Linked DNA regions of Homo sapiens: region 1 is linked to region 2. The links come from fine-mapping of genetic effects on gene expression. A gene starts in region 2. The other region holds a variant in brackets. All regions are shown on one strand. Distances are from middle to middle.

Region 1 (17,215 bases), 120 kb before region 2:
GTTGGATGAATGGATGGCTGGATGATGGATGGATGAATGGAAGGATGAATGGATGTATGGATGTGTGGATGTATGGATGGATGAGTGAATGGAGGGTTGAAGGTATGTATGTATGTATGGATGGATGGATGGATGGTTGGAGAGATGAACAGAGGATGGATGGATGGATGAATAGATGGTTGAATATATGGATGGATGATGGATGAATGGATGGAAAGATGGATGGATGGTTGGATAGATGGATGGGTGAATGGATGGCTGGCTTGATGTATGGATATATGTAAGGATGGATGGATGGATGGATGGATGGATGGATGGATGGATGGATGGATAGATGGATAATTGGATGGATGGATGGATGGATGGATGGATGGATGGATGGATGGATGAATGAATGAATAGACACTCAGAAAGTCTTTAGTCTCCTCTAGATTTCATCTCTGTGGCTGAGACAATGGCAAAGCATTTCTCTTTTCCATCCCCATCCCTGGAGCTGTCGTTTTTCACATCCATCAGCATCAAGATACTTCCCACTAAACTTCGTGGGTGAGAGCCTGTACTCTTTCCAAACCTCTCACTGAACCAGTCCACTCTTGTCATGAGAAAATAAGTATGTCATCTAATTACCAATGATGTCAGTCAAGGAACCTTAAACAAAGAGATTAGTTCTGCTTGTATTTGTTGGTACAATGGACATCATAACATATTTAACAGCATTGTAATGTGGAACAGATGGGAAAGACCCCAGCTTTCGGGGCCTCTCCATCTCTCCCACTTTCTACCAACAGCCAAAACCAAGCGACCTTTTAGAACACTTTATGGGCTGGATGCCTGCCAGAAATTGCTCACCCAGGGGCTGCCAGTACCGGCCCAGCCTGATAATGCCTGCTGGGTTCTTCATTGAAGACGATCAAGTTACAATCCTTGGGAATGCTGGAAATTCCACAGTGGATCTAGATACAATATTGGGGTGAAGCCCTCCCAAGCTTTACCCATTTATCATTGAGTTTCCACCGAGTGCTGATTATGTCATGGGATTTCCATCATGAAACCAAAATCTTGAGAAATCACCAAGGAGTAAATTTCAGTTTGGTTATGTGCTGGGCAACCTTGGATAAATTAGTCATCTCTCTGAGCCTGTGTCTTCAGCTGCAAAATAAGGGAGAAGAGCCAGCTGGACTAGTCATGAAGCCTGAGTGAGACAATGTCTGTAGAAGCCCAATAGGCACACAGCAGGTGCTCAAACTAATCTCGGCCCACGTGGGTGAGGGACTGAGTTTAGAACTCTAGATCTATTGAGAAACATTTCACATGCACCTAGTCTGTGGACCTGCATCCCACACAGAATTTTAGAATTTTTGAAATGAAAGGAATCTTGGGGACTATTTAAACCAAAGCTTGAAAAGCAATGGTCCGTGGGCCACACCCAGCCTGACAGCACATGCGTACACACGCATGTTAGCACAGGTATTTTTTAACAATATTCAAATTAGTTGCCACCTAAAAAATTTTTTTAACATTATAATGTGAAATCTTGAATGATTGAGAAACTGTCACTCTAATCCAAAGCCCACATCCCCACATGGCAATGATTGGACAAAGATCCCAACCTTCCCTCTTTCAGGATGTTTTTACACTTGGTCTGGGGATGTGGTTTGGATTTGTTTCCCTGCCCAAATCTCATGTCGAATTGTAATCCCCAATGTTGGAGGAGGGGCCTGGTGGGAGGTGACTGGATCATGGGGGCAAACTTCACCCTTGCTGTTCTTGTGATAGTGAGTTCTCATGAGAGCTGCTTGTTTAAAAGTGTGTAGCAGAGGCTCGCTGTCTTCCTCCTGCTTCAGCTACGTAAGTCGTGCCTGCTTCTTCCTCACCTTCTGCCATGATTGTAAGTTTCCTGAGGCCTCCCAATCCACGCTTCCTGTAGAGCTTGTAGAACCTGTGAGAGAATTAAACCTCTCTTCTTTATAAATTACCCAGTCTCAGGTAGTTCTTTATAGCAGTGCGAGAACAAACTAATACATCTGGTCTGCTCAGATGTTTCCTGTTTGGGTTCTGTAGGCATGTTAGTTCACAGACCCAGATTGAGAGCAATTCCTTCCCCTTTATAGATAATGAAACTGAGGCCAAAGTGAAGATGACAATAAGCCCCTCCCTACGACGGTCATGGGAGATATCACCAAGAGATCATGCAGTTCTTTCCTTGATCACAGCCTCAGAATCCCTCTTAACACAGTGCTCTGTGTTGGCAGCCATTCAGATAACCAATCAGGTACCTCAGGGATAAGAGATTTTGCTCAGGGTTCCCTAACTCTGCTCTATTAACCTTAAGGGCTTGCTCTCATCTGCTCTTGATAGTTTTGGGATTGCAAATGAGGAGACATAAACAGTGGGTTTGCTTCGTTGCTGTGTTGCAGGTTTGGAACAAGAGATCACTGGAGGGCAGGGCTGGACGGCAGCAAGGCCATTTTCAGGCTATGATCTTGGGGTCACCTTTCTACCTCTCTCAGCCTTGTTTTACTCTTCAGTGGAAGAGACGAAAAAGCATTTGACATTATTGTAAGAATCAAATGAAAGACTGTGGGTGGAAGTGCCTAGCAAACTGTGAAGGTTGCATTATCATTTTATTAGGCATGGTATGCAGTACCCATAAGGCAAAGGTCTCCCTCTCTGACTTCCTTGACTCCAGGGTAAATTTGAATTTTGACATATATTAAAATGTAGCTTGGGAGATATTCTGGCAACCGCACACTGTATGTTTTGCATTTGGCTTCCCTGGCCTTTGGTCAGGGTTGAACATGCATTTCAGCAAAAACATGATTGTAAGAAAATATTTCATTAATCAAATGCAATCTCTTTCTTTATAACCTCTGCATTACCGACCCCCTACCTGGCCCCAAAAAGGAAGGCTTGCTGCTTGCACAGACGCCTCCCTCATGGCTCCGAACCATACCCCTGAAGACCTCGCCCAGCAATACACGTTAGCCCACACAACCATGTTTTCCTTTCCAAACCCTAAAAAAAGAAAAGAGCCCTTTCTCTTTTCTTTACCCAGAGTAATCCTGAAATTATGCACCATATCCGGAAGACAGACATGGCCCCAAATTTAATTTTCTGGTTTCTGCAGAGCTGACTTAATCAGACCAGAGTCGAGGAGGGATCCCCCAGGGATGTACCCCCAGAGCTCTGCTACGGCTCCCAACCTGACAAGCCGTGAGACACGGTCACAACACTTTGCCCAGAGCACCATGTGCCTGTGTCTATGTAGGTCTCTGTGTGTGTGGTGTGGGTGCGCACCTGTGTATATGGCTTGCATGTCTGGCAATTGTGTATGTTGACTGTCTCTATCTGTATCCATATGTGCCTCTGTGGTGTCTGTGTGTGGTATGTAGTGTATCTGTATGTGTAGTGTATGTGTGCATCTGTGTGTGTTTGGTGTGTGGGGGGGTGTGTACACACATGTATGCAGGTGGGGGGTATGTGCAAGCATGTGCATGTGTCTATGATGTGTATGTGTGTGTCTGTATGTGGTGCATCCATGTGTGTATGCCTGTATGTGGTGTGGTGGGTGTGTTTGGCATGTGTGCATATATCTGTGTGTGGTGTGTGTTTTGTCTGTGTGGCATGTGTGTGTATGCATGGTGTGTGTGATTGTATGTGTGCAAGTGTGTGTATGTATGGAGTGTGTCTAGGTCTATATGTGCCTCTGTGTGGTGCATGGTTGTGTGTGGTGCATGGTTGTTTGTGGTGCATGTACTTGCACACAGGTGTGTAGTGTATGTGTACGTGTGTGTGTGTGTGTGTATGGAGTGTGTCCGTGTCCGTGTGTGCCTCTGTGTGTGGTGCATGGTTGTGTGTGGTGCGTGTACTTGCACACAGTTATGTGGTGTATGTGTAGGTGTGTGTGTGTGGAGTGTGTCTGTGTCTATGTGTGCCTCTGTGTGTGTGGTGCATGAATAAGGGGTGTGTGTGCATAGGCACTCAGGTGCGTGCACGTGTCTACAGTGTATAGCATGTGTGTCTGTGTGCCCGCGTGACCTGTCACCCATGCCCTAGGATGAAGAATTGATCGTGGGCTCGATCCTGGGGTCCCTGGGACAGTCCCATGCCTTGTTCTCTCCCATGTTCCTCATGGTTATGGAGAACAATGGTTTGGCGAGGACTGGCAGTGCTGTGAGAGATTTCCAAGGTGATTCACATCGAAACTCCCCGTTTGACAGAGAGGGATCTGAGGTACAGAGAGGGAATGGGACTTACCAAAAGTCACAAAGCAAGTTGGTGATGAGTGCGAGGCTGGAACCGATTTCTCCTGCCTCCCCGGCCAGTGTGCTTTCTCCCTGGACCCCTTCAGGGAGGTCACAGCCAGCCTGCTGGGGAGCTGGTCATAGGGAAGGACCTTGCTGGGATTTGGGGATGGACAGCTTGGCTACATGGATTAATCAGGTGGGAAACTGCACGAGCGATGTCCTTGAGCATGAGTTGACAAACGCTTCTGTGAAGGACCAGAGTAAATATTTTAGGACTTTGTAGCGCAAGAGGCAAAATTAAAGCTATTTTGTTGGTACTTACATAACCATGTAAAATGTAACCCACTTAAAAATTTAAAAACCATTCTTACTCCTTGAACTGTGTGAAAACTAGTGGCAGCTAGATTTGACCCACAGGTCTACTCCTGTCCGAGGCGCTGAGAATCAAAACAAACAAGTAGACAAATCTGAACTTACGAAACCCCAAACAGGAGCAAACACAAGAAGGTCAGTGCCAGCAGCCGAGAGCACAGAACAGGCAGCAAACAAAGAGCCATGGCGGTGTTGTGTGAGAAGTGCGGAGCTGAGGTCACAAACTGGCCTGCAGAGATTGGGGGTTGGAATCCCAGGTGTATGGCGCTCAATCACAGACTGTGGTCAGAGAGAGGGTCCATTTTCCAGGATGGTCCAAAATGAGGCAACGGAGAAGAACTCCATAGCAGGAGCAGTGCTCAGGGGAGCAGGAGCCCTGTAGGCTGGAGGGACCTCGGCAGATGCTTGTCCAGTTTTCTCATGGGTGGTAACCTCACACTGCCTGTCCTCAGTGCCATGGTCCACTTGCTGAATGAATGCCCAGGCCTGAAATCTTTGCCCAGTGTCTTATTTGGTCATTTTGTGAGCTGCATGTGTATGTGGGTGTTTTAGTCCATTTGGGCTGTTATAACAAAATATCATAGCCTAGGTGGCTGATAGACAACAGAAATTTATTTCTCATGTTCTGGAGGCTGGGAAGTCAAAGATCAAGGCACAAGCAGTTTCGGTGTCTGGTGAGGGCACGTTTCCTGGTTCATAGATGGTGCCTTCTTGCTGTGTCCTCACATGGTTGAAGGGGCAAGCTCTCCCTCTGGGGTCATTTTAATAATCCCATGCATGACAGCTCCACCATCATGACCTAATCACCCTCCAGAGGCCTCACCTCCTAATACCATCACCTTGCGGGTTAGCATTTCAACGTATGAATTGGGAGTTGGGGGAAATAAACATGCAGGCCTTACCAATGGTCCACAGCCCCCAGGATGACTACTTCTGCTGCAAAACCCCTAACCCTCAGCCCACCCCACAGCTTCACTTGGCATCCACTTGGCATTCACAGCTTCACTTGGCATCAGAATAAAGAATTTGAGCCCAGGCATGGTGACTCACACCTGTAACCCCAGCACTTTGGGAGGCCAAGCAGGCGGATCACTTGAGGTCAGGAGTTCAAGACCAGCCTGGCCAACGTGGCGAAACCCCATCTCTACTAAAAATTCAAAATATTAGCCGGGCGTGGTGGCAGGTGCCCGTAGTCCCAGCTACTTTGGAGGCTGAGGCAGGAGAATCGCTTGAACTTGGGAGGCGGAGGTTGCAGTGAGCTGAGATCGCACCACTGCACTCCAGCCTGGGTGACAGAGTGAGACTCTGTCTCCAAAAAAAAAAAAAAAAAGTATTTGAGCCTAGTTGACCTTGCCTGATATAATGCAACTAGTCAGATGTATAATGCTATAGGATTACAGCCCCCGTGAAGGCTGCTGATGAAAGACAATGGGGAAGGAACGTCCCCCACTGTCTTTGAAATGTGTATTTAGTAGTTCATTTTGCCTAGAAGGAGAAATGACTGAGAGTACAGATCTACACAGAAGAATGGGCAGTACCCAGCACCAGAGAGTAAGCTCCAGGAAGGCAGGGTTTGGGGGTTTCTGTTTTGTTCACCATTTTATTTATTCTTGATGTATAATAAGAGCTTAATAGTCCAGGTGAGGTGGCTCACACCTGTAATCCCAACACTTTGGGAGGCCGGGTGTGGGGGGGTGGGGGGTGGATCACAAGGTCAGGAGTTCGAGACCAGCCTGGCCAATATGGTGAAACCGTGTCTCTACTAAAAATACAAAAATTAGTTGGGTGTGGTGGCACCCGCCTGTAGTTCCCAGCTACTCGGGAGGCTGAAGCAGAAGAAGCGCTTTAACCTGGGAGGTGGAGGTTGCAGTGAGCCGAGATCGCGCCACTGCACTCCAGCCTGGGCAACAGAGTGAGACTCCATCTCAAAAAAAATTAAAAAAAAAAAAAGAGCTCAGTGATATTTTTTATTTAAATATTCTTTACTTGATTCTTTCCTTAAGGATGGTCAAGGGCTCGAAAAGGACAAGAATGGGGATTGATAACATGGAAGTTTGAGGAAAATATATATGGGTAGCCCTTTCAGCGAGATCTTGG[G/C]TATAACGATATGTATGTACTGTTTGAATGATCATCAAAAGTCCATCTGTGGAGAGAAGGCTCTTGATAATCAGGTGTCCAGACATCACTGGATGTCAGTTCAGTTGCCCATGAACAAGCAGGCCTGGTGGCAGGGATGCGACAGCTAACCTCATAATTTAGTTCACAGACTTCAGGACATCAAGTAAAATTGTGAATGAACCAGAGGAAAACTAACAGAGCACAGAAATGGATATATTGATAAATGGGACGTTTTGCTAAGCACTCACTTGCTCATACGGGGGTAGGTGCATTAGGTGGAATATGGGAGCTATTGTTTCCACTGCTGTTTTTGCTTGGAAGTTTAAATATGGAAATTGGGGTACACCGGGACATGAAGTATCCAGAGGCATGGGCCGTGGGGGATACTGTAGATTTGCTTATTAATTGCCCATTAAACTCCTTGCAAGATGTTTTCCCATAATGCAGAAGGGTAAAGCTAAAATGGCATTGGCCGAGTGTGGTGGCTCACATCTGGAATCCTAGCACTTTGGGAGGCCGAGATAGGAGTTCGAGATCAGCCTGGGCAACATAGGGAGACTGTCTCTAAAAAAAAAATCATTTTTTTAAAAAAATAAATAACATGGCATATCCCTGCCTCCTTTGCTGCTGTGTTCTAAATGTGAACCAGGTTTTTCCAATTCCAACTCTCCTTCATGATGCTGAGTGTGGGAGGGAGGTGCATGAGGAGACAGCTTGACATGGGCACCCCTTTGCTGCAGTGCAACGGAGGCGAGGCCTTTAGTCCGCAGCTGCAGTATTCTCCCTGTCTGGCAGCCTCCTGCGGGGCAGCAGCAGCAACTTTCTCCACCATGAAAGAGGCAGCATGGTCCTGAGGCTGAGCTCCTCCTGAAATCTCAGATTAGAGTCTGTTCTTCAACAATTTTGTGAGCCATTTTATACCCCATCATAAATCCCTTTCTCCTTAAGCTAGTTAGAGTGGATTCTGTTTTTTGCAACTGACTGCTGACTGATTCTAGACTCTCCCCTTAACAAGCATCTTCAGGACACTTGTAAGCCCATAAGGGAGATCCCGGACTCCTGGCAGTAGTTGCAGGGCAGTACTTTGGGGTCAGAGTATGCATCCTAGAGAATGTAAAAGAAGATACTTCTTCAGAACCTGCCTAGCATGACCCAGGAAGGCATTTGGGATGGGGTGGTATAAATAGCTTCCAGTTATGGAGTGTGTCCTATGGGCTGAGCACTGTGAAAGCCCTTTACACATACTATCCCATTTAATCCGCCCAACCACATTCCTTTGAGATAAGTATTCCAGAAGATGGGAGAACTTTGTTAAGGTCCAATGCCTTGCAGATTTGGTTGCTTGGAGCCAAACACTGATCAGGATGATTCCAAGCCTGTTCCTAGAACAGTTTCACCGTCACTTTTAAGGGAGTAAGTTAAGAGCAAAAGAGAAACTTCACATTTTTTTTCCAGGGCCATAAAAAATCATATTTTTAAAAATAAAATTTTTAGTGATCTTACTACTGGGAATTTATCCAAAGGAAAGGAAATCATTATATTGAAGAGACATCTGCACCTTCATGTTTATTGCAGCACTGTTCACAATAGCCACGATATGGGATCAACGTAGGTGTCCAACAACAGATGGATGTAAAAAATATGGGATATATACACAATGGAATACCATTCAGCCATTAAAAAAAGAGAAATCTCGTCATTCGTGGCAACACGGATAGAACTAGAGGACATTATGTTAAGCAAAATAAGCCAGGAACAGAAAGTTAAACACCACATGTTCTCACTCATATGTGATAGCTAAAAAAAGTTGATCTCATAGAAGTAAAAAGTAAAATGGGATACTAGAAGCTAGGGAGAGTAGGAGGAAGGAAGCATAGGGAGAGACTTGTTAAATGATACAAATTACAGCTAGATAGGATAAATAAGTTCTAGAATATTACACCACTGTAGGCTGACTATAGTTAACAACAGTATATAGTTTCAAATAGCTAGAAGAAGGATGCTGAATGTTCCCAAAACAAAGAAATGATAAATGTTTGAGATGCTGGATATGCTAATTACCCTGATCTGATCACTTACATTATATGTATCAAAACATCACTGTGTACCCCATGAATATATAACATTACTATTTGTCCATTAAAAGAAAAGAATTTTAAGTGTGGAAAGAAAGAAAATATGTAAGCTGATGAAAAAAGAAGGAAATAGACATTTTTCTAGTGTTCAAATCATACAGTGCTTGTCCTAAATACTGCTGAATTTGCCACTTGGAAGGGAAGACTAATCTGTTTTGGAACATGCCATTATTTAGCATGTAACTTTTTACTATTTCTTGATTATAAAGATATCATTAAAAACTGCAAAATCAGTTTTTGAAATGTTCAATGCTTTTAAAAATTCAGATCTTTTCATTTACTAGATTGGCAAAACAGATTATTGATAAGATTCTATTCATTTCATTCTAATGAAAATAGAAATGAAATAAAATGGAACAAACAATAAATAAAATTTTTGGCCAGGCGCAGTGGCTTACGCCTGTAATCCCAGCACTTTGGGAGGCCAAGGCGGGTGGATCACGAGGTCAGGAGATCGAGACCATCCTGGCTAACATGGTAAAACCCCGTCTCTACTAAAAATACAAAAAATTAGCTGGGTGTGGTGGCGGGCGCCTGTAGTCCCAGCTACTCAGGAGGCTGAGGCAGGAGAACGGAGTGAACCCGGGAGGTGGAGCTTGCAGTGAGCTGAGATGGCGCCATTGCACTCCAGCCTGGGCGACAGAGTGAGACTCCGTCTCAAAAAAAAATAAATAAAATTTTTATTTGGAATCATTTAGAAAAGGTGCAAAAACAGCACAAAGTTCCCATAACCTTCACCCAGTGATACACTCTGGATGTTTGTCCTTCCAGATTTCATGGAATCCCCAGTGCTGGAGGTGGGGCCTGGTGGGAGGTATTGGATCACGGGGGAGATTGCTCATGAGTGGCTTAGCGCCATCATCCCCCTGGTGATAAGTGAATGCTTGCTCACAGAGATCGGGTTGTTTAACAGAGTGTGGTACTTTTCTCCCTCTCTCTCTTGATCCTACTCTGGCCATATGACATGCTGGCTCCCTGTCACCTTCTGCCATGATTGTAGGCTTCCTTAGAACCTCACCAGAAGTGGATGCCAGCACCATGTTTCCCGTTCAGCCTGCAGAACTGTGAACCAATTAAACCTCCTTTCTTTATAAATATCCAGCTCCAGGTATTTCTTTATAGCTACACAAAAATAGACAAACACACCCAGTCTCCTCTAACGGTAACATCTTACATGTCCATGGGGAATTTGTCAACACCAAGAAATTAACACCAGTGCAATAGCGTTAATGAAACTGCTAACTTGATCTGTGTATCATTGGCCTTTCCACTAATGCCTGTTCACTGTTCCAGGATGCAATGCAGGATTCCACATTGCATTCAGCATTGTGGTTTGTTGCTTTTTACTTTTTGTTATCCCATCACCTCATTCCAAAGGAAAAGGGCCTCAGTGATTTGCACAAGCCCAAAGAGAGGAAACAGATAGCATGAGACAGGCCATGTCTCAGAACAATTTAGAGCAATTTCCCTCGCTGTCCATTGGTAGAGGAGCCCTCCTATTAGAAATTAGCAGCAGCAGGCCACAGTGAAAACCAAGCTGGAGCGGGGAGCAGGGACCAGGATGCACGCCAGTATGCAACTGCAATACGGAATTCCAGCCCGGAAGCCCTGAGCAAGTTGGGGTCTCTCCTTTTGCAGCATAATGAAAGGTAGCAGGACGGAGAGCCAGGGCTGCAGAGGCAGTGACAGAGGAGGCTGGCAGGGCCAAGTAGCTGAGTAACATTCTCACCAAGAGGATTCCACGAGAAGGTGATGGATCTCTCCAATTAACCATGTCATGGTTGGGCTTGGAAGCCGTGGATGAAAACTGAGGTAAGATAATTATTTCCATGGGACGCCTGGTTGTGAAAAAAATCACACGGTCATAAAAATGAATGAGTCGTCCAGCCAGAAACACTAGAGAACTCAGTAAAGATTTAGAAACCGTGTGTGTTTAATGCTACTCTCACAGTGGGCTGGGTTCCCACAAAAGGTGCTAAATTAAAACAAGGAAGGGTAAATCTAGTTTTCTCACTGAAACAGCGTTTTAACCCTGAAGTTCCTGACCCCAGGTTTGATGCTTCTGCTGTGGAAATAAACATGTATACCACGTTTAGTTAACATAAATGACACGTGGCATACCTTTATGTTATACGGATTAAGGCTTCTTCAGATCAGCTAAACAGGGCTATGCCGTGATCAATTCCATATAGACCTAAAAGGCAGAGCATCCCCGTGGACAGAGTTCTGTCTTTCTTCAAAAAGCATGCTGCTTTATTTTTTGGACAACTACTTAGAAGGTAAGGGTTCTTGTTATTCGGGGCCACAAGACTCACAAGTGTTTCTGTGAGGGTACTTAGCACCACTCTAAGACTTTAGACAATGGATCCCGATATGCTGGGTGAAATCACCTCCCTCAGTTGTAAACTCCTTGTAGCCAGCAGTGGTCTTGCTGCGGCCTGATAGTGGAAAGTGATTCTTCCATTTGCAGGGTCCTCTATAGGAGTGCTGGCAACCTGGCTTCATCTGCCCTAAACAAGGCAGATGGAAAAACCAAGGACCGCTCCTCCTTCCTAAAAGAACAGACTTTCCCACCCTTTGCCCTTTCTCTGCAGAACTGCTTCACCAAGTCAAAAACTCAGAGACTCATTTGAATGACATTTAACTCTAGGGCATGCACCACTGAACCAGATCCAAATCTATTACTTTTGATGGCAAAAACCATAATTATTATTATTATTTTTGAAATGGAGTCTCACTCTGTCGCCCAGGCTGGAGTGCAGTGGCGTGATCTTGGCTCACTGCAACCTCCACCTCCCAGGTTCAAGCGATTCTCCTGCCTCAGCTTCTCAAGTAGCTGGGACGACAGGTGTGCACTGCCACACCTGACTATTTTTTTTTTTTTTTGCATTTTTAGTAGAGGCAGGGTTTCACCATATTGGTCAGGCTAGTCTTGAACTCTTGACCTCAAATGATTTGCCCACCTCAACCTCCCAAAGTGCTGGGATTACAAGCATGAGCCACCGCTTCCAGCCTGTAACAACTTTTGCACCAACAGTTCAAAGTCTCATGCACGGCTCTGGACTCCACTTGGATTCATATGGAGACTAAAACTTTGTCTCTTCCTTTACCAGTCATGTAAGGAGTGAGGGGCTACAGATATAATGCTTCTCACTCAAGTCCCCCCACCCCCTATCCCGCCTCACCTCCCAAAGGGTGAGAAGGGTTTAAGATCACAGAGATGGAAAAAACTTAGGAAACGTATTACACACATTATTAAAATAATAGCAAATTTTTTAAAAGTTCTCACTTGGGAGAACAAATTATACTAGAGGCAAAACCATTTTATTTTAAATCCTTCTAATGACAGTGTTCTGAATTGAAGGGTACACTTCTGTTCCTTGGTAAGCAGAAGATTCTGACATACATTTTCCTTTTCTTGGCAAACCAAGGTCCTTGTTAGGAGCTTTTGTTAGCCTGTGGCAGCTCCTGGGTTTACTTGCCGGTTTCTTAGACCTGCCCTCAAAAGTCAGGATGGTGTCTCTGGCTTCTCCTGCATCTCGCAGTGTCCTCCCCTTCTCCTCTGCAGCTTCCAGTGCACTGTGAGTTACGAAACCAGATAGCCAAACCCAAGAATTCTTTGTGAAATAAACTGTCCTGGTGGGGCTTTGATCCCTGGGGTTGGGAGTGAAATGGTTGGAAAGGCGTCCTTTTACCTCTATCTGGGCTAGTGCCTGGATCTACTGGGGGTGCTGTTTCTCTACCAAATGCACCCAGAGTGCATTTTGGAATTCTCAGTATCCACTTGGCCTGCCCATGACCCCCACCCCTGAGACTGTGAACGAGGAGGTCTGGAGAGATGCTGAGAATGTGTTTGAAGATGCTCCCAGATGAGGCTGATATCCACATGAGATTGAGTGTTGCTGTCGCCCTGAGTTCAACCTCTGCATGAAAGAGGTTGAACTGGAAGTCAGAATTTTACAATGTCAGCCTTAGCCACATGTCATCTTTCTTCTCATAACCTCTTGGACAAACTCCTTTACTTCAGAAAACGAATTTCCAAACCACACAGTATTTCATAGACCAAAATAGAGATTTTTATTTCCAAACACAAAGCAGATACATTTTTAAAAACATAAAACAACAGCAAAAACGTCAAACCATCTTTTAGAACACTGCTACTTCCAACTTGCACAAAAGGAAGGGGAGGAAAACGTCAATGCAACTTTAAAATATAGCACTAAGAAGAAACTCCGGGGTCCTGGTGTTCCTCCCTGGATGGCGGGGAAGGCTCCATTAGCTTTGGACTTGATATGAACCGAGATAACACACACATGTTCCGAGACAGTCGTTTGGCTCCAATACTGCTTGCCTTCCCAGAAAGCTTAATTTATTGCAAATGCATGTTTTACCATCACAAATAATATGACAAGAGTAGATATGGTCCCTCTGCGTATTGTTTACATAATAGAATATTTAAAACAATGGAATGTGTTTGTCTTTGACATCAAAAATCATTTATGCAGCATCTACATGCACATATACACACACAAGTGTGAACGCATACACAAACACACACACACAGACACACACACACACACACACACACCCCATGCCATTGCTTGGTCCACACTGCATGAAACACACCATTCCAGCTACATGAACAGGTCAGTATCAGGTTAGTGTAACCAGGTCTCCAGGTACAAAGGATGAAGTGGGTTTGCTCACATAGACTTAGCTTAGGGTAGAGTGAACTTGTTTATGAGAACCTCGTTTATGCAGAGGTTGGACTCAAGGCGATCGCAGCACTCAATCTGGTGTGATCATCAGCGTCATCTGGGAGCAGCTTCAAAAACATTCTCAGCATCGCCCCAGACATCCTTGTTCACAATCTCAGGGGTGGAGGTCATGAGCAGGCCAAACTCACTCTACCCGACCTGCTGCCTCCAGGATGGGTTCTGAGGAGACATGGGGCCCTCCCATGGGACGGATGACAAATGAAACGAAAAAATCCATCTGGGTGGGGGGCTTTGGAATGAGGGCTCTGGTCTTTCGGACTTGAAATTGGAGGGAAAACGTAATCGTTCCTCCAAAGCTGGTATTGGAAACTTGCCATTTTCCCAACACACACACACAGAAAGAGAGAGAGAAAGGAGAAAATTTAGGACCCACAGAATTAAGCCCTCTTTCAAAGCAGGTTATCTGCTATCCTGAGAAAAAGAGGGCATCGTGTCTAAACCAGCCCAAGGAAATTCCCAGATGACACAGATCTAAGGGGTCATCTGACCTTCCCTTCTTTATGGAGAATGCCAGGGAGAGGCATAAAAACTCTGGACTTTGGGTAAAACGTCCTGAGCCCGATGTGGTCTCCCTGGCTTCTGAGAGACCACAGGCTGGTGTCTGTTGTGCTGAAGCCCAGAGCTGGAAGCCAGGGCTGCCCAGTTGTGCTTCTGCATGGAGATGTGTGTAGTACTCACACATGCTATGCTCACATACGCGTGCATCCCTCCCACCCTGCCCACCCCTTCACATGCACACACAGCTTCCTCTGTCCGCTTCCTCCTCCCCAGTAAAACTTCTGGAACATGCACAAGCGACTGCCTCCTTGTTTCTCCCATGAGAGGAATTGGAACTGCTCAGCAGGCAGAGACCGCGCAAAGCCAACTCTGTCCTCTGCCTGCCCCCGCAAGGGCTGGCCTGTCCGTGCTTTTCCAGTGGGAAGGTAGACAGACAGTGGGTACCTGCTCCCGTCCCCTGGGACCTCATCCTGGTGTTGCCAGCTCCCTTCAGCGGTGGGAGTCAACGGACTTCCCCGCAGGAGTGGGCACAGGAGGAAAGCAGCATGCTGCCCCTGCTTTGGAATGTTGCCCTCCAGCTAACTCACCAGCTGCCAGAGTGGCAGCAGCCCGCGGCCTGCAAAGGAAAGGAAAGCAACTGAGGCCCAGGGAACATTCCATAGAGTGGAGCACTGGGCTCGGAGCCAGTCATGCCTGGGTACAAGTCCCAAATTTACCACTCCCCGCCTAGCTGGCTGCTCTGAGGCAGGCTGCTGACCCTCTCCACACTCTGGTTTCTGATCATGACTCCATAGCACAGGCTTTTTGAAAGTGTCATGACCATATTGCAGGCGCTCGGGGTATGTTTTCTTCCCTCCCTTTCTCATCAGAACAGGAAGAGGGACTGTAGGACTTTGTCCCTCATCTCCACAGAGGTGCTGGGGATGGGCTGGCCTGGTGTTCCTGGTTGCTGAGCTCAGAAGCAAGCGTTTCAGAAAGGAAGCCCAGGATCCTCGGGGGAAACCGAGGTCCCTCCTTATGATTGCTGTCTCTCGGCTGGACAAGGTGGTTGGGTTGGGGATGATGTTACCATGACAACCGGAGAGCAGGTGCTGGGAGATGCTGAGTCCTGCTGACTGTGCTTTAAGGCCCTGAACATCCTGCTGAACCATTTGCTTTTAGACCACGAGCCTGTGTTTTAATGTTCTTTTAGAAACAAATTCCTCCTTGTTCTTACTTTGAAAAACAGAAGTCGTTTCTCTCATACACAGAAGCTAAGGGAGAAACGACAGCTGGTTTTAAGTCCTCTTTGACTCTGGGCCTCTGCTGAAGCAGCCTGCAGGCACTGGCAATTGGGTGATGAGGGCCACCTGTGGGGTGCCCCCACCCACTTTCCTTTTCAAAGCCTCAATTGTCTGCTACAAAACAAAGAGCTGGCCTGGAAAGGCTCAGAGATCCTCATTTTCCAAGATTTGCACCCAGGAGCTCCTCAAGCTCAAGAAGAAATGAAAGCAAATATGCATTGCCTGGGCTGAATCCAAACACAAAGAAAGTGTTCAAAAGCTTAGCCCTGGGTGCTCACCGCCAGGACAAAGACGGGAGGGGCTGTTCCTGCACAAAAACTCTGGCAAGCTGGGCAGATCTATTTGTCGGTTCCCAAGCCTTGCAGGAAGAATGTCTACAATGCCTTTGGGTAGACCTGAAGGACTCAGGGTCCCCTGAGAGGAGGTGGCAGGCCGTGGTGGCAGGTCACTCTCACACTGCAAGGATGATGCCTTCGAGTTCCACACAAGGAGCATACAGCCAAGGCATGGAGGGTCAGGACAAACTCTGGTTTTCTCCTCCAATTGTAGCAGAGACAGCGAAGTGCCACTCCAAGCCACCCTACCCTTCATTCTTACTAGAAGAGCCCCCATCTTTTTGGGGCACATGTTCCCAGACTCCTTGCAGATGTGGGGGAAAACATGTGACACAGTCCTGGCCAATGAGATGAGAACGGAAGTGGCTGGTGGAGCTTCTGGGAAAGCTGCTAATGAGGAGGGCAGATTCGTCTAGTTCACTCCCCTTCTTCCTACCTGGAACCCAGATGAAAAATTGGAGGTACAGCAAGCATCCTGGGCCATGAAGTGACTGTGATATAAAGGAAGGACAGTTGCAAAGCCTTGGCTCTGACATCCATAACCTGAGGAGACGATGCCAGCAACCGCCTATATCTAGACTTCTCAGGAGGAGAGAAAAGTAAAGTCTCTGACTGGTTTAAGCCAAAGTTGGTCGGGGGAGGAGGGATTCTGTTACTCGTGGCTGAATCTAGGGATTTCTCTTCCAGATGCGAGCCCACGCGCACAATCCTAGGATACCTAATATTTCAGGGAGCACTGAACGCTCCAGGGCTGACTTCCCTCCTTACCAATAGGTGGGGGGAGGTGGTAAGGAACTGGACCAATGTCACACAGCCCATCAGCAGCAGAGTTCCAACTCAACCCTGTCTAGTGCTGAGCAGTATCAAGCTGTCATCCAGTGGGTGCAGAGACCGACCCCCACTCCTGGAACTAACTCCCTGAGCTCACTGGCCAAACAAGAACTGCTGAGGTCTCAGAGTCCTAACCTGTAAAATGGGTACAAAGTTGGAACAAGACAGTCTATGGAAGCCCTCCAACTCTGACAGCCTGAAGAATCCAGGTATCCTCCTTCAACAGAGAACTTAGCATTTCCTAATCCATTTTGCCTCCCCTAAAAGTCCTACTTGGCAGTTCATCCCATTGTCTGCTTTCTGGGGCTAGTTTGTCTCACCCAATTACTAGATGAAGGAAAAATGATTTTTTGATTGGGAACATCCTAATTTTAACATAAATTCAAAAAAAAAAAAAGAAAAAAGAAAAGGAGACCAGAATTGAGAGCTTTCTGAGAGGGCTGGTACAGGTGTAAGGATGTCAAACAGGTTTTGCTCACATAAGAAAATGATTGATTGGCAGTAGCTTGGAGTAGTTTTGAGGACTGTGAGGTCCATTGGGTCAGAGAGTGGGGAGTGGGAAAGGTTGGTGATCAACTATTTTGATGTCTGTCTTGGAAGCAGCAAGGGCTGTAGTTG
Region 2 (14,096 bases):
CCAGCATTTTGGGAGACCGAGGTGGGTGGATCACGAGGTCAGGAGATTGAGACCATCCTGGCCAACAAGGTGAAACCCTGTCTCTACTAAAAATACAAAAAAATAATAATAATAAAATTAGCTGGGCATGGTGGCATGCAACTGTAGTCCCAGCTACTCAGGAGGCTGGGGCAGGAGAACTGCTTGAACCCGGGAGGCAGAGGTTACGGTGAGCTGAGATCACACCACTGCACTCCAGCCTGGGAGACAGAGCAAGACTCCTTCTCAAAAAATAAATAAATAAATAAATTAAATAAAATAAATAAAATGATCCTATCAGTTTAATCTCAGGTATACTTCCCGTCTCTCTCCCTGAGTGCCCTAAGGAGGAGCCTTGTGACCCAAGACTCTCACTGGTCTGTCTGTCGGGTGGTGTCTGCATGAGAGTCACACAGCTGTGGCAGCCTGGAGAGAAGTGTATTCCCTACGTGTGTGACCTCGGCCAGGACACTTCGTTTTGTTATAAAACCAGTAGATTGGTCCAGGTGACCTGAGGTTCCTTCCAGCTCAAATATTTCAGGATTTTATGATTCAGAAGCATAAATCATTAGGCCAGGACCTTTAAAAATCCTGTTGATCATCTGAGGTCATAGAGTGTTATTATTATCTTACTTGTTGTATGATTTGGGAAGACAGAGATCATGTCTCCTACATTAAAGATCGTGTCTCCTACATAAAGATTTATGACACATAAAATCATGTGTCATACAACAGAATTTTTTGCTTTATTTTTTAAATCCAGCCAGATTAACATTGGAATCTGAGGAGAGAGGCAGATTTTCTAAGAAAGCATCTGAAAATGCTCCACATGATCTTTTAATTTCATTTGTATTATGTAAGATTATATATATATAATGGAATATATGCGCCTCCTATTTGTAAATAATGAAGCATAAAAATATTTAAAAATAACGCCCTTAGCCAGGCATGGTGGCACATGCCTGTAATCCCAGCTACTCAGGAGGCTGAGGCAGAACAATGGCTTGAACCTGGGAGGTGGAGGTTGCTGTGAGCTGAGATTGTGCCACTGCACTCCAGCCTGGGCAACAGAGTGAGACTCTGTCTCAAAAAAATAAATAAATAGGCTGGGCACGGTGGCTCATGCCTGTAATCCTAGCACTTTGGGAGGCTGAGGTGGGCAGATCACGAGGTCAGGAGATCAAGACCATCCTGGCTAACACGATGAAACCCCGTCTCTACTAAAAAAAAAAATACAAAAAATTAGCCGGACGTGGTGGTGGGCGCCTGTAGTCCCAGCTACTCGGGAGGCTGAGGCAGGAGAATGGCGTAAACCCGGCAGGTGGAGCTTGCAGTGATCCGAGATCAGGCCACTGCACTCCAGCCTGGGTGACAGAGCAAGACTCTGTCTCAAAAAATAAATAAATACATACATAAAATAAATAAAAAATAACACTCACAAGCCTACCACTGGACTGAAGAAACAGAACATAATGGATCCCACTGAGAGTGAAACAGACATCTCCCTGATCAATTACCCACTTCTCCCCAAAGATAATCACCTTGATTTTGCATTATCATTCCCTTGCCTTTTTCTTTTTTAAACCAGCTTAACTTTGTGAAATAGAATCTACGTATAAAGGCATGTATAAAACATACATGTAATTAGCCAGTAACTACAAAGTGATCTCCTTTGTAACTGCCCCCCCGACTCTCCTGATCCTCTCTCACCTTTCCTCAGCACGCGTGGTAATGCTTGGCTTTTATTTAAGCTAATCACCTTCTTGCTTTTTGTCGTCATTTTACTTCTCAGCTATGTGTCACTAAACAACTCATTGCTTAGTTTGGTTGTGTTTTGAGCTTTTATAATTGCCTTAGCAGTTCTCCATGGAGATGCTAGGATTCTCTATACCACGTCTGCAGCCTAGAAACCCAGGCGAGAGATCCAGGCTGCACTCTGGTGTTACAATGATAGTAGAGGGTTAGTAATAATAAAAACCATCAGTCCTATTTATGGTGTGCCCGCACCATGCCGGGCATTCTGCTAAAGCATCATCCCCAGTTACCTCAATTATCTTCGCAGCAACCCCAAAAGGGAAGTATTTCAAGAGGTCAAAATTAGGGCATCAGCTTCCCAAACTTGTCCCCCGTCCACTTCCTAGCTTCCTAGCTGCTCAGCCCCAGAACATCATCCCTAAGTCCTAAAGCAAAGGTTCCTTTCAGGATGGGAGGGTCAGGAAACACTGCTGCTCCTGGGTTCCTATCTTTGTGGTCCAGTCAGGCTGCTTAGATTATATATATATATATATATATATATATATATATATTCAGAATCCATATTCTTTTCCAGCAAGTACTGATGACTTAATGAAGACAAGCATCCTGTCCGGTCAGTACTGTTTTCCCAGTGATGAACGTACAACTTTGTCCTTGGATTGTCTAAGATAGGCCATGTGGTGCCAGGAAGAGCATCAGGTCAAAAGCCCTTAGTTCTAATCCTGGCTGTACCACATCCAGCCGCTGGATATCAGCCTTCTCATCTGTAAATGGGCAAGCAATGACAGCCTTGCCTACTACCAGATCCTAGGAGGTGAGAGGCAGGAAGAGCTTTGGAAGACCCCACGAACACATTTGAGTCCCTCTGTAGGCTTCTCTAGAACCCTTCAGAGTTGAAAGGGGTGACCAGGAACCTGGGAAAGAGTCCCAGGGCAGCCCAGGGTTGGAGCTTCAGGGCCAAAGTGGTTAACTGAAAATATTCATTATCACCCCGCCCAGGCTGGAGTCCCCTGGCTTCCAGTTTTGAAGCAGAGGTCAGCTAGGCGGTGTAGGACACTGCTCCTGGGTTGACCAATGGGCCACATCAATGGGTCAGCTGTTTGGGGTCAAGAGCCTCCTGCCCTCCCTGGGGCCAAGGGCCAGCTTTCAGTGCTGGGAGGACCATGAGGGGGGTGAGCCAGGACTACCCACCATTGACAGACAAGGGGAAATCAAGGCAGGGAGAAGAGGGGCAGAGGCAGAGCAGAGGGGAACCCAGGTATCCCGACGAGGCCCCTTCGCCTCAAACTGTGACACCTTCTCACATGTGCTGTGTCTGACACCATACAAAATGCTGATCAGGGCAAAGCTCGTTTAGTGCTCATGAGGCCCTGCGAGGCAACACCTGCCGTGCTATGGTTAGCCCCTTTCCACGGGGAAGGACGCTGAAGCTCTGAAAGGTGAAGCAACTTTCCCAAGGCTACACAGCCAGGAACGGGCTAAGGCAGGACTGGACTCAGGCAATCCAACTTGACTGCCCCATTCCTAACAGCTGGACAATGCGGGAAGCCTAGCTGCCCAGTGGGTTCCCAAAGGCTCCAGGGTGCTTTTGACGTTGAGCTGGGCCTGCCCAGTCTTGCCTCCCGGGGCCGCCAAGCCAGGGCCCCCCGGCAGCCCGCTCCAGGCTGCATCACAAGGCAAAGGGGCTGCCCAGGCATGGCCAGGTCCATGGCTGCTGGAGAGCATGCAAAGCACCCGAGCAGGAGCCTTGTTCCCATGGAGACAGACAGAAAGGACTCCAACTCACTCTGAAGTGTACCTGCAGGGAGCCAGGTGCCAGACTGTACCTGGAGGCAGAAACCTGAGCCTGGATTCTCACCACTTCCCTCTGTGCCACCAACACATCCTCAGGCCTTCTTCTCAGGACCCCCAGCAAGACACGAGTTCCAGAAATAAGACATCCCAGCCCACTTCCCGCTCAGCCACCCCCAGAGGGGCCTCTCTGGTTGAAAACAACGCCTGGGGCCAGCAGGCTTGGCACAGCTGTGGCTGTCAGCCTGCCGAGCACCGTCCGGCCTGAGGAATGTGCAGACCCACATGTGCTGGAGCATCCCGCTGGGGCACAGTGACAGGAAACTGAGCAAAACAGCTCGTTGGCACTGATATGCCCCTCCCACCTCCCAGCTCCTGACTCCTATGGGCTGTTGGCTGCCCTGGAAGTGCAGGCGGCAAGCCCAGGCCCTTCAAGAGAGCCAGGCAGTGTGGCTCTGGGCAAATCACTCCCCCTCTCTGGGCCTGTTTCTGCTTCTCTTGGTGGATGAAGGACGCTGTCCTGCCAAGCTCAGAATGGCAGTGATTTTATGACATGCTCTCCTTTCTGGGAGGACGGTCCATTCTCCTCATGCCCTCATTCATGTGGGATGGGGCATGCCCCCAAGACACATCAAGCTATCCCACTAGCAGCCCTTGGCTGTAGAAAGCCCCCCCACCCAGTGCAGGGATAAGGGTGACCCTTCAGAGTTGAAAGGGGTGACCAGGAACCTGGGAGAGTCCCAGGAAAGCCCAGGGTTGGAGCTTCAGGGCCAAAGTGGTTAACTGAAAATATTCATTATCACCCCGCCCAGGCTGGAGGCCCCTGGCTTCCAGTTTTGAAGCAGAGGTCAGCTGGGCGGTGTAGGACACTGCTCCCGGGTTGACCAATGGGCCACATCAATGGGTCTGCTGTTTGGGGTCAAGATCCCAAGACCCCAGGGGAAGTCAACATCCATCTGAGGCTCTCTCAGGCCCTGCAAGCCATCTCTGGCCTCACTGCCCTCCCCTTTAGAAATGTGGGAATGAGGCTCAGAGAGGTTGAGCTGCTTGCCAAGTTTGCATAGCCAAAAGGCGTCTGAACGAAACTGAGCATTCGGGGTTGGACTTCCCCTCTTCGCCGCCTGCTCTGCTCTCCCAGGCACTACTGAGCGCGCTCGCGGTCGCCAGGAGCGGATTGGGCCCCCGCCGCGCGCAAGCCTTGGTGACAGGTCAGCCCGCCCCTAGGGGAGGCAGAGGGAAGCCCCGAGGAGGCACCCGGCCCGCTGGGGCGCGCTGCCCGGGGCTTTAGGGCTTTTTCTTGTGGGCCGGCCGAAGCTCCCCGGGGTTGAAAGGAAAGGCTCGGGAATTTCGCAGCCAGCACAGAACGGTTGGATTTAAACTAAAAATACCCGCCCGCCCGCAGCTGTCACGCCGGGGCCCCCGCCCCCGCGCCGGGCGCGCCTCCCCAGGTCCCCCAGACTTTCGGCGCCCCCGATTCCCGGGGCTGTGTCAGAGCTGGGCCAGGGGCTGAGGACCCCACCCGCCCGGCCCCCGGCCCCCGGCCCCCGGCCCCAGGCCTGGCCTCCCGGCCCCGTGCCACTTACCCTCCCGGAGCGTGGAGGAGCGCGGCGCCGCGGGTAGCTGGGGCCGAGCCTCCTTCCCTCCTCCCTGCGTCCCGGGCGGCTCCGGGGCGGGGCAGGGCTGGGGCGGGCCCGGACACCGCGAGTACCCCCGCCCCCGCCGGGACCCGCCCGGTGGCCCCGCGGGAGAGGCCGCGCCCCTCTCCGCACGCGCTCAGCGGAGGCCCCGGGTGCGCAACCCCAGCCCGGCGGACATCCTGCGTGGCCCCGGGGACCAGGGCCGAAGAAAAGCCTCACCGCTCCCTGTCGCGGACCCGGGGCGGGGGTTAAGGGGGGGGTCCTGTCCACGCTTGCCTGGAAAGCAGCCCGGAGCCCTGGCCCCTGTCTGTCTCCCCGACACACACACAGCCACCCACCCTCTTCTCATCCTAGGGGATGGCGCGGAGCTGCCTCTCCGGGAAAGTTGGATCTGTGCGCCCAGACATGGAAAAGGGATTAGGACACCGGCAGATCTTGCCCTCACAGAGCGGAGGTGGGGGCCTTGGAAGGGGCACACCGCCCGTAGGCGCGAAATCCAAGAAGAAAATGACACTCATCAGCCAGCCTCGCGCGGGGAGAAAGGGCGGGGTGGGGGGTAGTGGCACCCTGCCCGTCCTCTCCCACCCCCACAGTCCGGGCCCACAGTCCAGGAGTCACAAGGGATGTGAATCCCCAGGCATAATGTGAACCCCCAACAAACCCAAGGCCTCAGAATGCGCCTCACCTCTCCCTCCCCACCAGCAGAAACATCCTCCCACTCTCCCAACCCCTGCTCCAGCCACGCCAACCCTTTAACCTTGTCCCAGAATGTCTAAACTGTATCTGCCTCTGTGCCTGTGCACATGAAGTTGCCTTGGCCCGGCGTTTGCTCCACAGCCTTCTGCCAAACTCCTACTGCTTGATGGCTGGAAGCCTTCGCACCCTGGCGCTCTCCTCCCAGGTCAGCAGTCACTGGCCTTCCTGTGCATCCAGCCCAGCTTTGAACAGTCCTGGGCCCCAACCCTTATCTTTTTCCGAGTAATTACATGGTTGCATGATTGGCTTCACCGCCTCTGGATCAGATGAGCGCTACTAATGAAGGATACAAGTTGTAAAACTAGGTTTTATGTGAACTCCAGTCATCACAGTTTAGGTGCGGCTAGCGATTTTACAGATGCGGGGTTAGTAACTGGCCCAAATCCAGGGCTTCCGGGATGCTGTTTTCCTTTTTTGTTTCTTAGCAGGGATGGCAGATGTTTGTAGAACAGATCCGTGTAAAAGTCAGTATCCTAAGAGATTAAATTGTAAAGCAGGACAAGATAGTTAACGGTGTGTGTGTGTGTGTGTGTGTGTGTGTGTGTGTGTGTATGTCTTTTCCAAATTGAGAGGGAGGTAGAAGAATTAGCCAAAACCCAGGATTCACTCTGAGGTAGACCCACACCTCTTAGTTAGATCCCATTTATTAAGCTGTAATTATTCACAGCGTTGCTGAAGATATACACAGGGCCCCTCCCATCTCCCTGCGACTGACTGGTTCCAAGTATGCTATTATATGTGTTATTATCACTGTGGCTCAATTAGAAGTGCTGCCGAAGGCCTTGAGGTTGCCACAGTCAAACTGCAGGTGCAGGCAGCGAGTAACAATGATTATAATGCCTGCATCTGGATCGCGCTTTTTGCTTTTCAGAATGCTTTCAAATGTGTCTCCTCATTAAATCTCTGCAAACATCCTCCAGGTAGTTAGGAAAAGTTTAATGAGTTTTGCCTGACAAGGGAAACCAAGACACAAAGAGGGCAGGTGACTTGCACAAGGAGAGAGATGGCTCCCCCAGGCTGCTCCAAGGGTGGAGCTGGCCACTGTAACTCAATGTCCTGCAGGAAGAGATGGTTGGGTACAGTTAGGAGCTCAGGCTCTAGTGCCAAAGTGCCCAATTTGCAACTTTCAGCTGATTACTCATACTTGGTTTCCTTTTCTGTTGAATAGATCTAATAATAGGAGCTTATCTTGTATGGTTTTGTGCCTGGTATTTGAGCACCCAACTCAGGCGAGCTGTTATGTTATGGTTCTGGGAATGGTATGATTGCTACAGTTTCTGCCATACAGCTATTCAGTCTTTCGTCAAACATTCCTGAGTATCTACTATGTGCTAGTCTCTGGGAATATGAAGAAGAATGAGGCATAGACTACTACCTCCAAGGAGGTCAGGGTGTAATAATTCTGTGTCAGGGGACCATGGTGCACAGAGATGAACTGTCCCTCCTGCTGCCGGTGCAGTGCAGAGCACCAGTTCAGAGCAGTGGAGATATTCACTTTCCAGGCCCAGCTTTGCTACTTATTTAGCTGAGTGAATCTTACACTGTAAGATTCTGTTACACATACAGTGTGCACATACAGTCTAATCTTACACTGAATGTGACCTCTTACAACATTGGTTTTTCTCATCTGTTAGATGGGGATAGCAATAATTTTTCATAGGTGAAAACACATGTGATAAACATATTTTATAAAGTACAAAATACTGTGCAGATAGTTTTGTTATTATCAATGTGATTGTTATTATCTTGGGCTTTACAGGGCTTGCTGCTTTTCAGAATACTCTCCCATTCCATTGCTTTTCTTAGAGTCTCGCTCTGTCACCCAGGTTGGAGTGCAGTGGTGCAATCTTGACTCACTGCAACCTCCTCTCAGATTCAAGCAACTCTTGTGCCTCGGCCACTTGAATAGCTGGGTCTACAGGCACACACCACCACACCCAGCTAATTTTTTGTATTTTTAGTAGCGACAGCATTTCACCATGTTGGCCAGGCTGGTCTCGAACTCCTGACCTCAAGATATCTGCCTGCTTGGCCTCCCAAAGTGCTGGAATTACAGGTGTGAGCCACCATGCCCGGCCATCCATTACTTTTCTTAAGCCTGACATAAACATCACATCAAAAACAGAACCCTATTTTTTATTTGATGCCAATCTTTTTCTCTCCAAAGTAGTCCACATGGAAGGAAAACAAAAGTTGAGTAAGCAATGCGAAGGGATGGGGCAGTTTACAACTAGGAAGTCCACAATACCTTCGTCTTCAGCATTACCTGCAGCTACATAAGGGGGTGGACATGAAAACCCATCTGGAAAAAAAAATCTGGCAAAGGATTGGGGGAAGAGCCCCTTTGTCATCTCTGGAATTGAACACAGGAAACCCCGCCCTGAGACCTTCCTTTCAGAAGCAGCCCAGAGAGGGAACCACAAGAAGGGCACTAAAATTATGCTGTTCGGAAGTTCTGACTCACTTGGCAGCGCGGGCTGTTTGTGCAACGTACCAAATGTCCTCCAAAAAGCGAAGTTTTTACCACTCTTTCCCTCTGTCCCTTCCCTGCAGCCAGCATCTCCACCACCACTCATGGGGAAGCAGGAATCAATTTAATAAGCCTGGGGAAATTATCTGGGTCTGTTTCACATTTGCTGTTGGTTAGCCAGCTTCAGTGGCAATCTGCACAATCCTCATTTTGTAAGCATGATTTTTTCAGTTGTTTGTGTGTGTGTGTTCAGTCTCCACAGATAGATTACAACAAAAGCTGCAATGGCTTTTCTGGCTAATAAAACACCTCATGGGTAAACTGAGGCAAGAGAGTAGGGACGAGGGGCATTGCCCAGGGTTCCAGGATAGGAATTGCTGTTCAGAACATTTACATTCCCATCTCTCCATCTCTAGCCTGGCTTCCCACTTAGTGGTGAAGTACATAAGTGCTTTCAGCTTAATACGGATGAAAAGCTCACATTAAGGGTGCCCACTTCTGGGGTGCCCCATCAGAGAGGTCTTGGTCTGAGCCTGGAGAGCTCGTTCTCAACCCAGTTCTGCTCTGAACTTTTCCTTCTTCTTTGTTTTTTCCTTGCCGGTTCTCCAAGTGTTAGCCTGTCCTTTCCCACTTGGGTGCTACATGTGCTTCTAGGGTGAGCACAGCCAGCACCCTGGTTTGTTCACTTCCTCATGGGCAGCTGCCACCCATCAACTGAGCAGAGGTACCCCTCTGGGTGGCAATGAGTCATCTCAGTACCAAGCAGGGGAACTGGAGTAACTTGGAATATTCCTCTACATACATTTAATTGTACTGCATTTATAAAATACAATTATATATAACATACAGGACTGGATTCTCGGATGATGGGGTTCTAACTCTTGTTAAGGCTGCTAACTAGCTGTGTAACCTTGGGTCACTTCTAAGTTTTTGAATCTGTGAAATGAGAGAATTAAAAAAGATTTTCTCTAAATTATTCCCCCAATTTAAGTAACTATAAGAAATATATATATACACACACACAGTATTATATACAATGTAATATATGTAATGTAATATACATAATACATTATGATATATTGTGTGTATGTGTGTATATATATATATATATATATATATATATATATACACACACACGCATACATATATATATTGTATTGGCTGGCCAGGTACAGTGGCTCACTCCTGTAATCCCAGCACTTTGGGAGGCCAGCGTGGGAGGGTCGCTTGAGCCCAGGAGTTCAAGACAAGTCTGGGCAACATGGTGAGACCCCGTCTCTACAGATAAATAAATAAAATTATCCAGGCAGGGTGGTGCATGCCTGGTTTCAGCTACTTGGAGCTGAGGCAGGAGGATTGCCTAGGCCTGGGAGGTCAAGGCTGCAGTGAGCCATGATTGCACCACTACATTCCAGCCTGGGTGACAGAGTGAGACCCTGTCTCTCTCTCTCTCCATTATATATCTTTTTGAAAAAAGAAGATCTTGTTTGTATTAAACAATCATCATTTAACATAACTAAACACCACTACTATTATACTCCAAGGAATAAATACTAAGATAAACAAAAGTGTTAAAGGAAAATTGATAAATTTTATTCCTAAAAAATAAAATCTGGCTGGGTGCGGTGGCTCATGCCTGTAATCCCAGCACTTTGGGAGGCCGAGGAGGGTTGATCACCTGAGGTCAGGAGTTCAAGACCAGACTGGCCAACATGGTGAAACCCCATCTCTACTAAAAATACAAAAAAAAATTAGTCGGGCATGGTGGTGGGTGCCTGTAATCCCAGCTACTCAGGAGGCTGAGGTAGACGAATTGCTTGCACCCAGGAGGCAGAGGTTGCAGTAAGCTGAGATCAGGCCACGGCACTCCAGCCTGGGTGACAAAGTGAGACTCCATCTCAAAAAAAAAAAAGAAAAGAAAAGAAAAAACAAAAACAGAAAACAAAGAAAATATACAAAATTCTTCTGGAAGAGGTCTGCCATGTTTCTCGTTTCTCCCAACAGTGGGAAGCCTGGTCTATTCTTTCTGCTTCTGTTGGGACTACTTTAAATGCATGTGGGTTTTTTGTTTAATTAAATGCTTTATTTTGAGACCACTGTAAATTCACATGCAGTTGTAAGAAATCATACAGAGAGGTCCCCTATATGCTTTACCCAGTTTCCACCGATGGCAGCATCTTACAAGACAATGGTACAGTATCACAGCTAGGAAACTGACAGACACCCACACGACACAAAACGCTTCCGTCACAAGGATCCCGCATGCTGCTCTTCCCCCTTTCCCCATTCCCTCCTTAAACTCTGGCAGCCACTCCTCTGTTCTCCTTTCTATAATTCTGTCATTTCAAGAATGTGATAATAATGGAATCACACGGTGGGACTGCCCTTCTCCACTCAGGGTAGTTCTCTGGAGCGTCACCCAGGCTGGCTCCCGTATCGAGTCTGTGCCTCCTCGTTGCTGAGCAGCAATCCACAGTGTGACGGATGCATCACGGGCTGGGTCACCCTTCCCTTGTTGAAGGACATCCGGGTTGTTCCTGGTTTTTGGCTATTATCAATAAAGCTGCTATAAACATTTTGTACGCACATGTGTGTCAATATACATCTTCACATCTTAAGTTTCAGCTGTTGGATCTAATACCCACTTACAATCCCATACCATCAGATTTCTCTTACTTTTTCCTAGTGATGAACGCAGCTAGTGATGAAGGATGTTTAAGTGTCCAACAGTTGCCCAGGATTGGGTCTTGAGTTGCAGAAATCTAACAAAAACCAGTTACATGGTTCTTGCCATCAAGAAATTTACAGTCTGTTGGGGAAGTGACATTAAGACACACGAATCATTCACAGAACTAAGTAATGCTGCATGTCATCAAATGCGAGACTGCATGGTACAAAACTGACTTGTAGAGGAACCCAGAGACAGGAAAGAGAAGTGACAACACGAGTGTTTGGGGAGTCCTCTGGATAAGATGTGAGATATATCTCAAATGATGGACACAAATAATGATATTTTATATTTATTAAGGGCTTACCTACCATCTGCCACACACTGTTCTAAGCCTTTACCTATATTGTTAATTTAACCCTCATCATCACCCTTCAGGATAGCTCCTATTATCATCCCATTTTCCAAATGAGGGAAAAAAGGTGAAAACTTGGCCATTCACCCAGCTATTATGTGACTCACCTAGGGTACACACTCAGGCAGTCTGACCCCAGCACCCACTCCATCGCTGTGGATTCTGTCTCATAGCAATAGTGGTCATGATTCAATTCCATTCTGTTTCTTAGGTTATATTTTCCACACACAGCATATGCTATAGCTATGCTGAGCCTTCTGGAGGAAGGTTATTGATAAGTTCAAACACTGTTCAAACAAACCAGCACCACTGTTAGTAACGTAACAGGTGAGAAGTCTGTGTGTGATGTATCTGCTGGGGTGTGTGTGTGTGTGTGTGTGTAAACAGCAAGGCTGAAGCCTCCAGTTGTGTGATTATCTGTATATGCAGCAAAACACGCACACACCACACACATCAAAGTTCCCAGCTCTATATGATAAAACACAGAAGCAGCTGAGCCCATTTCAGATAATGAATGTGGTTTTGTATTCTCTGAATTGCTACATACCAGGAAAGTCACTTCCAGGCTCAGCTACCTCCTGAGTTGCTAAACATACAAGATGTGTGATCACGCTTCGCTCACAGCACTGATGGCTGCTCACCCTTTCAGCTGTATCATTTCGGTTAAAACAACAGCATACCACGAGCCCGGCATGTTTGCTTGCTTTTGTTTTGAAATCTAAATGCAGCCTTGATAATGTCGGTGCTTCCATCGATGGGGTGGGTGGCAGAGTGAAAAGCTCCCTGGATCAACATCTCCTGACTTGCTGTCTCTCTGAGCTCTGCATTTCCCAGTCGGCTGGGCAGAGGCGAGCCATCTCACCTCCTCCTGTCTCCACATTTAGAAAATGGGGCCAGTTCTTCCTGTTTTCCCTGTAAGAGCTGCATGAGATTCACATAAAGATGATGAAACGCACTGCAAACTTTAGATTCTGTGCAAATGTGTACGACTATGGTAAATTAAACCCTCCGCTTACTATGCTTCCAAAGAATGCTTCACGACAGACACCAACTCAGGAAGAGGCTGTGAGTAAGGAAGACTTCCCCACTAGGGAGGAAAATGAAGCTTTCCGTGTTTTTTTTTTAATCCCTGGAGACATGTTTTTGAACGTTGCTGAAGTGTTCTCTCCTTGCTTTGACAAGTGTGGCTGTTCTGAACATGTGATCATATTGGAATCGCTGTGTGATAGGCAGAGTGCCCAGGAAGCCAGGGAGGCTCTGAACCCAGCCCTGGCAGACACACGGAGGTGTGGCCTTTGTACCCTCTTTAGGGCAGTGGAACCCATGCAGGGCACCTGCACCACCCCCACCCATCCCATATGAGCAGCCGGTGCTTGGCTCTTCCGGGAAGCCCACACTTGGGGCCCAGCCCTGTCCCTCTATCCTAGCGGCATGGGCTGGTAAATGCCAAATAGGTCCATGTATCTTATAAAACCTGCTGCTCTTGATGATAATTCTTGACAGCCCAGGACACTTCCCTAACAGAGAAAGTTGTTTCATTGCAGTAGTCTAGTTCCAAAACCTTAGAATCTTATTGCCAACAACTGGCATGGAACACATGCAGAACAAACATTTTCCAACAGGACTGCCGCAGGTCCTTGCAATGGCAATAGCTGCAGCACCTGGCCTAAGATTTTAAAGAACTTTCATCCTAAATTTCTTCTTTGATGTTGTAGACTTGGTATGCAGAGAAAAATGGCCAGTGTCGCTAAATGCACCTCCTGGTTAATTACAAAGCCCTATTCAGCAGACAGAAGCAACCTCTATAAACAGGCAAGAGGTGTCCTCAGGTATTTCAAAGGTCTCGGCTAGCACCATGCCAATGGGATGAGTGCACCAGCTTCAGCAATCAAGCTTGTTTCATCATCCAAATGGAAACATTTCTGCAAAATGACTGGACTCTATCTGCTCTGTTCACTAACTACAGAAATGGCCTAAAACAAAGGTTCACACACAGACAAAAGTAACAGCCAGAAGACACCTGACAAATTCACTGGCCCAACTCTATCACGTTGCAGAGCCCCTTAGAGGTGAAGCGAAGCGCCCAAGGGCAGCAAACACTGATTGCATCAGCCCACACTGTGTTTACCTCCATTGCAAAATCCACGAGACCCTGGGTCCTTACCTGGCCTCTCTCTGTGGCTTCCTTTTTTTTTTTAAGAGACAGCCTTGCTCTGTTGCCCAGGCTGGAGTGCAGTGGTACTATCATAGTTCACTGCAGGCTAGAACTCCTTGGCTAAAGTTATCTTTCCACCTCAGCCTCCCAAGTAGCTAGGACTATAGGCACACACCACTGCTCCCAACTAACTTAAAACTTTTTCTAGAGATGGGGCCTCACTATGTTGCCCAGACTAGTCTAGAGCATGTGGCCTCAAGCAATCCTCCTGCCTCGGCCTCCCAAAGCTCTGGGACTACAGGTGTGAGCCCTCATGCTCAGGCCCTCTGTGGCTTCTGGTAAATTCCTCTTCCCTAAAGCACTTGCTCCTAGTTCTCCTCATGGCCTGTCCCTCCCCAGCGATATGCGTTCCCCAGGTTTTCTTCTCTGCA

The links. PIP is the estimated chance that this variant, and not a neighbour inherited with it, causes the effect.
Region 1: its variant is the best candidate, but not a certain one, in a credible set for the expression of SYNE3 in whole blood (INTERVAL, PIP 0.66).

Annotation. Positions count from the first base shown.
Region 1 is chr14:95,394,341-95,411,555 of GRCh38, forward strand. It overlaps LOC105370640 (a long non-coding RNA gene), which reads right to left and starts at 10,766. Exons shown (of 3, transcript XR_944174.3): 1 at 10,602-10,766; 2 at 4,258-4,492; 3 at 1,823-1,939. It overlaps SYNE3 (spectrin repeat containing nuclear envelope family member 3), which reads right to left. Exons shown (of 18, transcript NM_152592.6): 18 at 12,926-17,215. The variant G/C (reference allele first, on the strand shown) is at 6,717.
Region 2 is chr14:95,511,449-95,525,544 of GRCh38, forward strand. It overlaps SYNE3 (spectrin repeat containing nuclear envelope family member 3), which reads right to left and starts at 5,202. Exons shown (of 18, transcript NM_152592.6): 1 at 5,148-5,202. It overlaps SYNE3-AS1 (SYNE3 antisense RNA 1), which reads left to right and starts at 4,672. Exons shown (of 2, transcript NR_188030.1): 1 at 4,672-4,772; 2 at 5,556-6,463. RefSeq lists silencers at 4,604-4,898, 4,648-5,457, enhancers at 6,882-7,031, 12,344-12,638 and a cis regulatory region at 12,661-13,063.